Linked DNA regions of Homo sapiens. The protein of the gene in region 2 purifies or fractionates together with the protein of the main gene of each other region. This does not show direct contact. Each region holds a gene or a part of one and is shown on either strand. Other genes may lie near its edges.

Region 1 (3,654 bases), on a different chromosome or scaffold from region 2:
GGTGGAAGAAACTGCTAAGCGGCAAAGCATTCAAGAGGTGACAGAACATTAAAGTTTGGAAAAATTGCAGCCTGACAATGGAACAGAAAAAAAAACCCAGCCAGGCGTGGTGGCTCATGCCTGTAATCCAGCACCTTGGGAGGCTGAGGCAGGCGGATAACCTGAGGTCAGGAGTTTGAGAGCAGCCTGAGCAACATAGAGAAACCCCTTCTCTACTAAATATATAGAATTAGCTGGCCGTGGTGGCACATGCCTGTAATCCCAGCTACTCGGGAGGCTGAGGCAGGAGAATCGCTTGATCCTGGGAGGTGGAGGTTGTAGTGAGCCAAGATTGCGCCATTGCACTCCAGCCTGGGCAACAAGAGTGAAACTCTGTCTCAAAAAAAAAGAAAAGAAAAGAAAAACCCATTTTCTGGGGAGAAATTCAAACCAGCTACAGAAATTTGTGAGTAACGAGAAGCCAAATGTTAATCACCAAGACAATGGAGAAAATGTCTCCAGGACACATCACAGACCTTCATGGCAGCCCCTCCCATCACAGGCCTAGAATCCTAAAAGGAAAAAATGGTTGGTTTCCTGGGCCTGGTCCAGGGCCCCTTGCTGTATGCACCCTAGGGACTTGGTTCCCTGTGCCCAGCCACTCCAGCCATTGCTAAAAGGAGGCAAGGTACAATTCGGGTCATGGCTTCGGAGGGTGCAAGCCCCAAGCCACAGCAGCTGCCATGTGGTGTTGGTCCTGTGGGTGCACAGAAGACAAGAATTGAGGTTTGGGAACCTCTGCCGAGATTTCAGAAGATGTACAAAAACGCCTGGGTGTCCAGGCAGAGGTGTGCTACAGGGGCGGAGCCCTCATGGAGAACCTCTGCTAGGGCAGCGCAGAAGAGAAATGTGGGAACTGGAGCCCCCACAGAGAGTCCCCACTGTGGCACTGCCTAGTAGAGCTGTGAGGAGAGGGCCACCATCCGTCCTCAAGAACCCCAGAATGGTCAATCCACTGACAGTTTGCACCACGCACCTGGAAAAGCCACAGACACTCAGTGCCAGCTGTGAAAGCAGCCAGGAGTGGGGGCTGTACCTTGCAAAGCCACAGGGGCAGAGGTGCCCAAGGTTGAGGGAGCCCACCTCTTGCATCAGCATGACCTGGATGTGAGACGTGGAGTCAAAGGAGATTCTTTTTTTCTTTCTTTTTTTTTTTTGAGACAGAGTCTGGCTCTATCACCCAGACTGGAGTGCAGTGGCATGATCTCGGCTCACTGGAACCTCCGCCTTCTGGGATCAAGCAATTCTCCTGCCTCAGCCTCCCGAGTAGCTGGGATTACAGGCGCGTGCCACCATGCCTAATTTTTTGTATTTTTAATACAGACAGGGTTTCACCATGTTAGCCAGGATGGTCTTGATCTCCTGACCTCATGATCCGCTTGCCTCGGCCTCCCAAAGTGCTGGGATTACAGGTGTGAGCCACCGCGCCTGGCCAAGGAGATTATGTCAAAGCTTTAAGATTTAATTACTGCCCTACTGGATTTGGGACTTGCATAGGGCCTCTAGCCCCTTTGTTTTGGCCAATTTCTCCCATTTGGAATGGGTATATTTACCCAATGACTGTATCTAGGAAGTAGCTAACTTGTTTTTGATTTTACAGGCTCATAGGCAGAAGGGACTTGCCTTGTCTCAGATGAGTTTGGACTTGTACTTTTGAGTTAATGCTGGAATGATTTAAGACTTTGGGGGACTGTTGGGAGGGCATGATTGTTTTAAAATGTGAGGATATGAGATTTGGGAGGGGCTGGGGGTGGAATGATATGGTTTGGCTGTGTCCCCACCCAAATCTCCTCTTGTAGTTCCCATAATCCCTGAATGTCATGGGAGAGAGCAAGTGGGAGATAATTTAATCATTGGGGTGGTTACCTCCATGTTGTTCTCATAATAGTGAGTTCTCATGAGATCTGGTTTTATAATGGGCTTCCCCCACCTTTCCCCCACCTTTAGTCTGCACTTCTCCTTGCTGCTGCCATGTGAAGAAGGACATGTTTGCTTCCCTTCCACCATACTTGTAAGTTTCCTGAGGCCTCCCCAGCCATACTGACCTGTCAATGAAATCTCTTTCCTTTATAAATTACCCAGTCTTGGGTATGTCTTTATTAGCAGCATGAAAACAGACTAATACAGAGCCCTGGGAAAAACTAGGCTGAAGAGGCTGGGCACGGTGGCTCATGAGGTCAGGAGTTCAAGACCACCCTGGCCAAGATGGTGAAACCTTGTCTCTACTAAAAATACAAAAAAAAATTAGTCAGGCCTGGTGGTGGGCACCTGTAACCCCAGCTACTTGGGAGGCTGAGGCAGAGAATTGCTTGAACCTGGGAGGCAGAGGTTGCAGTGAGCCATGATCGCACCACTGCACTCCAGCCTGGGTGACAGAGCAAGACTCCATCTCAAAAAAAAAAAAAAAAAAAAAGAAAGAAAGAAAAACTAGGCTGAAGAGGTCTCAAGTACTCCTTCCTTCACCAAACTTGAGTCAAGCTCCTCAGAGCCCTCTTTTTGACTAGGGCTTGGCACTGGCCTGCAGAAGTCAGTTTCAGCAAGAATCCATCTAAGGTAGTTTATAGAGACTCCTCCTACCTTAATATCCAATCAAGTTCTTTTTCTCCCACCTATGAGACCCAACCAAGTTCCATTCTCTCCCTCACCTTGTACATTGGCTATAAATCCAATAATATTCCTGCTGCATTCAAGGCTGAATTCAATCTCCCTCCCCTATTACAGCTGTCATGACTCACTGCAATTGTGCTTAATAAACTTTTCCTTGACATTCTTAACAAGTTTCCAGTGCAATCTCTCTTTAACAGGGAACAAGGCTGTAAACTTGAGACCCTGGTTCATTTATCTGAAATGCATAGGGGATGACAGGCTCCCTCCCACTGGGGATGAAGGAGCTGGGAACCACACATGCCATTCTGCTGGGCCCACCCAAGTCTGAATCCATGGAGGGGGAGGGTGTCCTGAGAGTACCTCCCACCCACAAACCCAAAACACCAGGCTCAGATTTCTCTCTGGATGGCCACTCCCTGTTGTCACCCCATGATCTGGGTGAGATCCAGGATTGCAGGTGCACAACTGCCCAGAGAGAGGTCCAGGAGGTAGACTGCCTCCTACAGTGATGGGACAGGATACCTGGGAGTCCTGGCTGCCAATTCAGCCCCCACCCTGATGGAGTGTGATGGAGGGGACTGAGACTCAGGCTGCTTCTGGATAAGATGCCCCACCAGACACAGGATTTGCAAGTCGTTCTTCCACTTGGTGAATTATCTTTTCAAGTTCTTGGTGTCCTTTGAAGAACAAAAATTACCAATTTTGATGAAGTGTAAACTTTAGTTAGTAACATATTGGCTCACCAATTCTGATCATCATCATATATGATATATTGGTTCATCAATTATATGATATATATGATATCATATTTACGTACTTTGGGAGGCCAGGATGGGAGAATCACTTGAGCCAGGAGTTAGAGATCAGCCTGGACAACATAGTGAGACCCCCATCTACCAAAAAAAAAAAAAATTAGCCAGATGTGGTGGTGCACACCTGTGGTCCCAGCTACTTGGGAGGCTGAGGCGGCAGGATCACTTGAGCCCTGGAGGTCTAGCCTGCAGTGAG
Region 2 (3,654 bases):
TTTCAGAACAGCAGAGGGAAAATTCACTAGGTTTCACCCTAGCCTGGCTCAATTATTACTGCATAAAACTACTCAAATCCCTCAGCTGTTTATCAAAGAATAGCTCTCATTAATTAGTATTTTGATTGTCAATTAGTCTCCTGTAAACTGAGTTAGAATAAATCTATACCTTAACCTAACCACTCCGTAAATGGTGACATTAAATTTCAAATCCTATACAACTGAAAAGCAGGTTCTAGATTCACATTGATCCCAGAAAGGTACTGGCAGGTGAGATGTACATAAAACCTCTTAAATCAATGTGCCATCATTTTTTCTAATATTACCTTTCGCAGCAGTGATTTTGGCCTTAATTATCTATGTATTTACACATGATTATTTTAGTCTACATTTTATAAGATGGTGGTATTTTTAATAGGTAAATAATCTGTATTTTCTTTACATACCTGCTTCAGTTTTTCATCTGTGAGACAGTTAAGTTCAATAATAAACTCACTGTCTGTAGGGGAGATTTGAGCAGAAGGATCAATGATCTTAATAATATCAAGTTGCTCCCGAAGACCCATCTCAGTACTCACTTTCCGACTCAGATACTCAATATATTCCACCTATGTGATGAAAAAATTACAATAAGATCATTGCTAAAACTTCTGATCCTTTATTATGTCAATTATAATGTGTTTACATAGCAGAAGCACTTAAGGTTATATTTGTTCCCTGAAAAACCGTTAAAGCTCAAATTCAGATTTACTAAGCAATCCACATTTCCCCAGTAGCTTTAAACAGGCAATAAACTGAGCTTTACCTAGTCTCCACATAAAAGCTTTTAATTAAGAATGTCAAGATCTTTACCTGCTCATCATTTGTCATTGCACTCCAAGGGAGTTCATCTAAATTCCGGTGCTTGTTTTTCTTTTTAGGAAGCAGGCAAGGTGAACTTGGAATACTGGGTATGACATCAGAAAGTACATCACTCCCACTGGCAATGTCACTGCCTGGTAACTTTATAAAAATAAGGAGGGTGTGGGGAAGGAAAGCAAAATTTGTTCAGACTACATTTTAAATACTACAATATATTTTCCACATCGATTAAAAGTTAGTTTATGAGACTGACGTGCTGCTGGCTGTGCTAAGAGGGCTTCCTTTAATATAAGACTAATGGCAGCCCGGCGTGGTGGCTCATGCCTGTAATCCCAGCACTTCGGGAGGCCAAGGCAGGTGGATCACCTGAGGTCAGGAGTTCGAGACCAGCCTGGCCAACATGGTGAAACCCTGTCTCTACTAAAAATACAAAAATTAGCTGGGTGTGGTGGCCTGTGCCTGTAGTTACTCGGGACACTGAGGCAGGAGAATCGCTTGAACCTGGGAGGTGGAGGTTGCAGTGAGCCGAGATGGTGCCACTGCACTACTCCAGCCTGGGAGATAGTCAGACTCCATCTCAAAAGAAAAAAAAAGAAAAAAGACTAATGGCAAATATAGAATCAGAGGACATTAATTCTGATCCATGCCTATTTTATACAAAGCAGCAACATAAGTATATAAATATATATTCTTTGCATATAGTTATTCAATGAAAGATGTTTTTGAAAAGCTTAGACTCATAATCAAGACTTATTAAAATGGTAACCGAAGAGTCAATCATCATTAAAGTTTTTAATGTATAATGAGAATATGACTAGGGCCTCCACACTGTAATGAAAAAGAAGCACTGGTCTCCATCTGGGGAGACCTGAATGATGTGCCACTAACTGGCTTTTTGCCAGAGACTGTGCTAAACATATTGTCAATATAAAGACAAATACATCTTGGTCTTTGACCTCAAGTCTGTATTAGTGACCTCAAGACAATTAAAATAAATTAAGGCCGGGCAAAGTAGCTCACGCCTGTAATCTCAGCACTTTGTGAGGCAGAGGCAGGAGGACTGCTTGAGCCTAGGAGTTCAAGACCAGCCTAGGCAATGTGGCGAGACCCCGTCTCTCTAAAAAAAAAAAAAAAAAAAAAAAAATTATCATGCCTGTAATTCCAGCATTTTGCAAGGCTGAGGTGGGAGGATCGCTTGGGCCCAGGAGTTCCAGAGCAGCCTGTCCAACATAGCGAGACCTCATCTCTATTAAAAAAAAAAAGAAAGGAAAAAAAATTAGTTGGGTGTGGTGACACATGCCTGTGGTCTGAGATGTAAGGATCGCTTGAACCTGGGAGGTTGAGGCTGCAATGAGACGTGTTTGTGCCACTGCATACCAGCCTGGACGACAGAGTAAGACTCAGTCTCAAAAAATAAATAAATAATAAAATAATTTTAAATATGCTGTTAAAATAAAGTAAAACACTTTAAGAACCAGAAGTATTACAAGAGAAAAATTAGAAAAAAATCATAGAAGACAAAGTGTAGACAAAGGAGGAATAAAAGCAAGCCTAACATACAGAAAATCAATTTAAGACAAACAGCAAAAATACATGCTATAATTTTATATATATTTATGTATACTTTTGCACATATGCATATACTCAAGTATATGCATGGTCACCGCCATGACCAAGGTTATAAATATATCCATTACCTCCAAAAGTTAGAATGGATTTAATTTTAAATAAATATATTTAAGTCATTCATCAAAAAGGTAAAGTCTTTTCTTCTACAAGGAGCAAATGACAATTTTCAAATATACTGACTTCATTTTTACAAGGTATAAAACAGTACCTTTTTGCTGTGTTTTGGTTCTATAGAGCTTGCAACTGTATCTGAACTCTGGATGATTTCTAGGCTTCTGCGGTTACCAAAAAAGCGAAGAGCTACTTTAGTCATGAAGACTATTGTGATCACATGTATTTGAACTCCTACTTTGTACACAGCAGTATAATAGGTACAGGGGATTCAAAGCAGTGTTAAGTCCTTACACAAAAACTTTACTTGGGAAAGTAATACAATAACACAGACATACAATTATACAACACAGCACATGATGAATGCTAGGTTTCAGATGACAGGTCATCAATGGAAATATCTAGCAGTGGGCTGAAGCTGCAGGATTAAAGTTTGGGAGAGTTGCAATGGACTGCAGGCAGGCACTGGGGAATCAATCACAAAGAAATACATGAAACCACAAAGATAGGAGTCAATCACTATGCAAAAGATGACTATGATGTTTAAAATGAAATTGTCTAAGAGAGAGGCCATTCTTTCTACACCCCCATAAGTAGCTACTACTCTTAAAAACCACATTTTCACTATGACAGTTATTGACAAGTCCAAGTACATAAGTGACTACCAACAATCTGTATAACTTCTTTTAAAATCTCATTAACGGCTGGGCGCAGTGGCTTATGCCCGTAATCCCAGCACTTTGAGAGGCGGAGGTGGGTGGATCATCTGAGGTCAGGAGTTCGAGACCAGCCTGGCCAACATGGCAAAACTCCGTCTCTACTAAAAATACAAAAATTAGCTGGGTGTGGTGGTGCGCACCTGTAATCCCAGCTACTCAGGAGGCTGAAGTAGGAGTATCGTTTGAACCCAGGAGGTGGAGGTTGCAGTGAGCCGAGATCGTGCCACTGCACTCCAGCGTGGGAGACAGAGCGACCATCTCAAAAAAAAAAACAAAAGAAAACAAAACATAAAATCTCATTAACTAACACTGCTTGAACTGTTCACCCTTGACC

What was found.
Region 1: the proteins of FAM199X (region 2) and ZNF627 purify together in Homo sapiens (co-immunoprecipitation; one large-scale study listed by IntAct). This does not show direct contact.

The regions. Positions count from the first base shown.
Region 1 is NC_000019.10:11,603,879-11,607,532, reverse strand, and holds part of ZNF627 (zinc finger protein 627), read right to left. Parts: intron 3,324-3,654; exon of another isoform or gene 3,169-3,323; intron 1-3,168. UniProt on the Homo sapiens protein: May be involved in transcriptional regulation.
Region 2 is NC_000023.11:104,183,414-104,187,067, reverse strand, and holds part of FAM199X (protein FAM199X), read right to left. Parts: intron 1,003-3,654; coding exon 853-1,002; intron 609-852; coding exon 447-608; intron 1-446.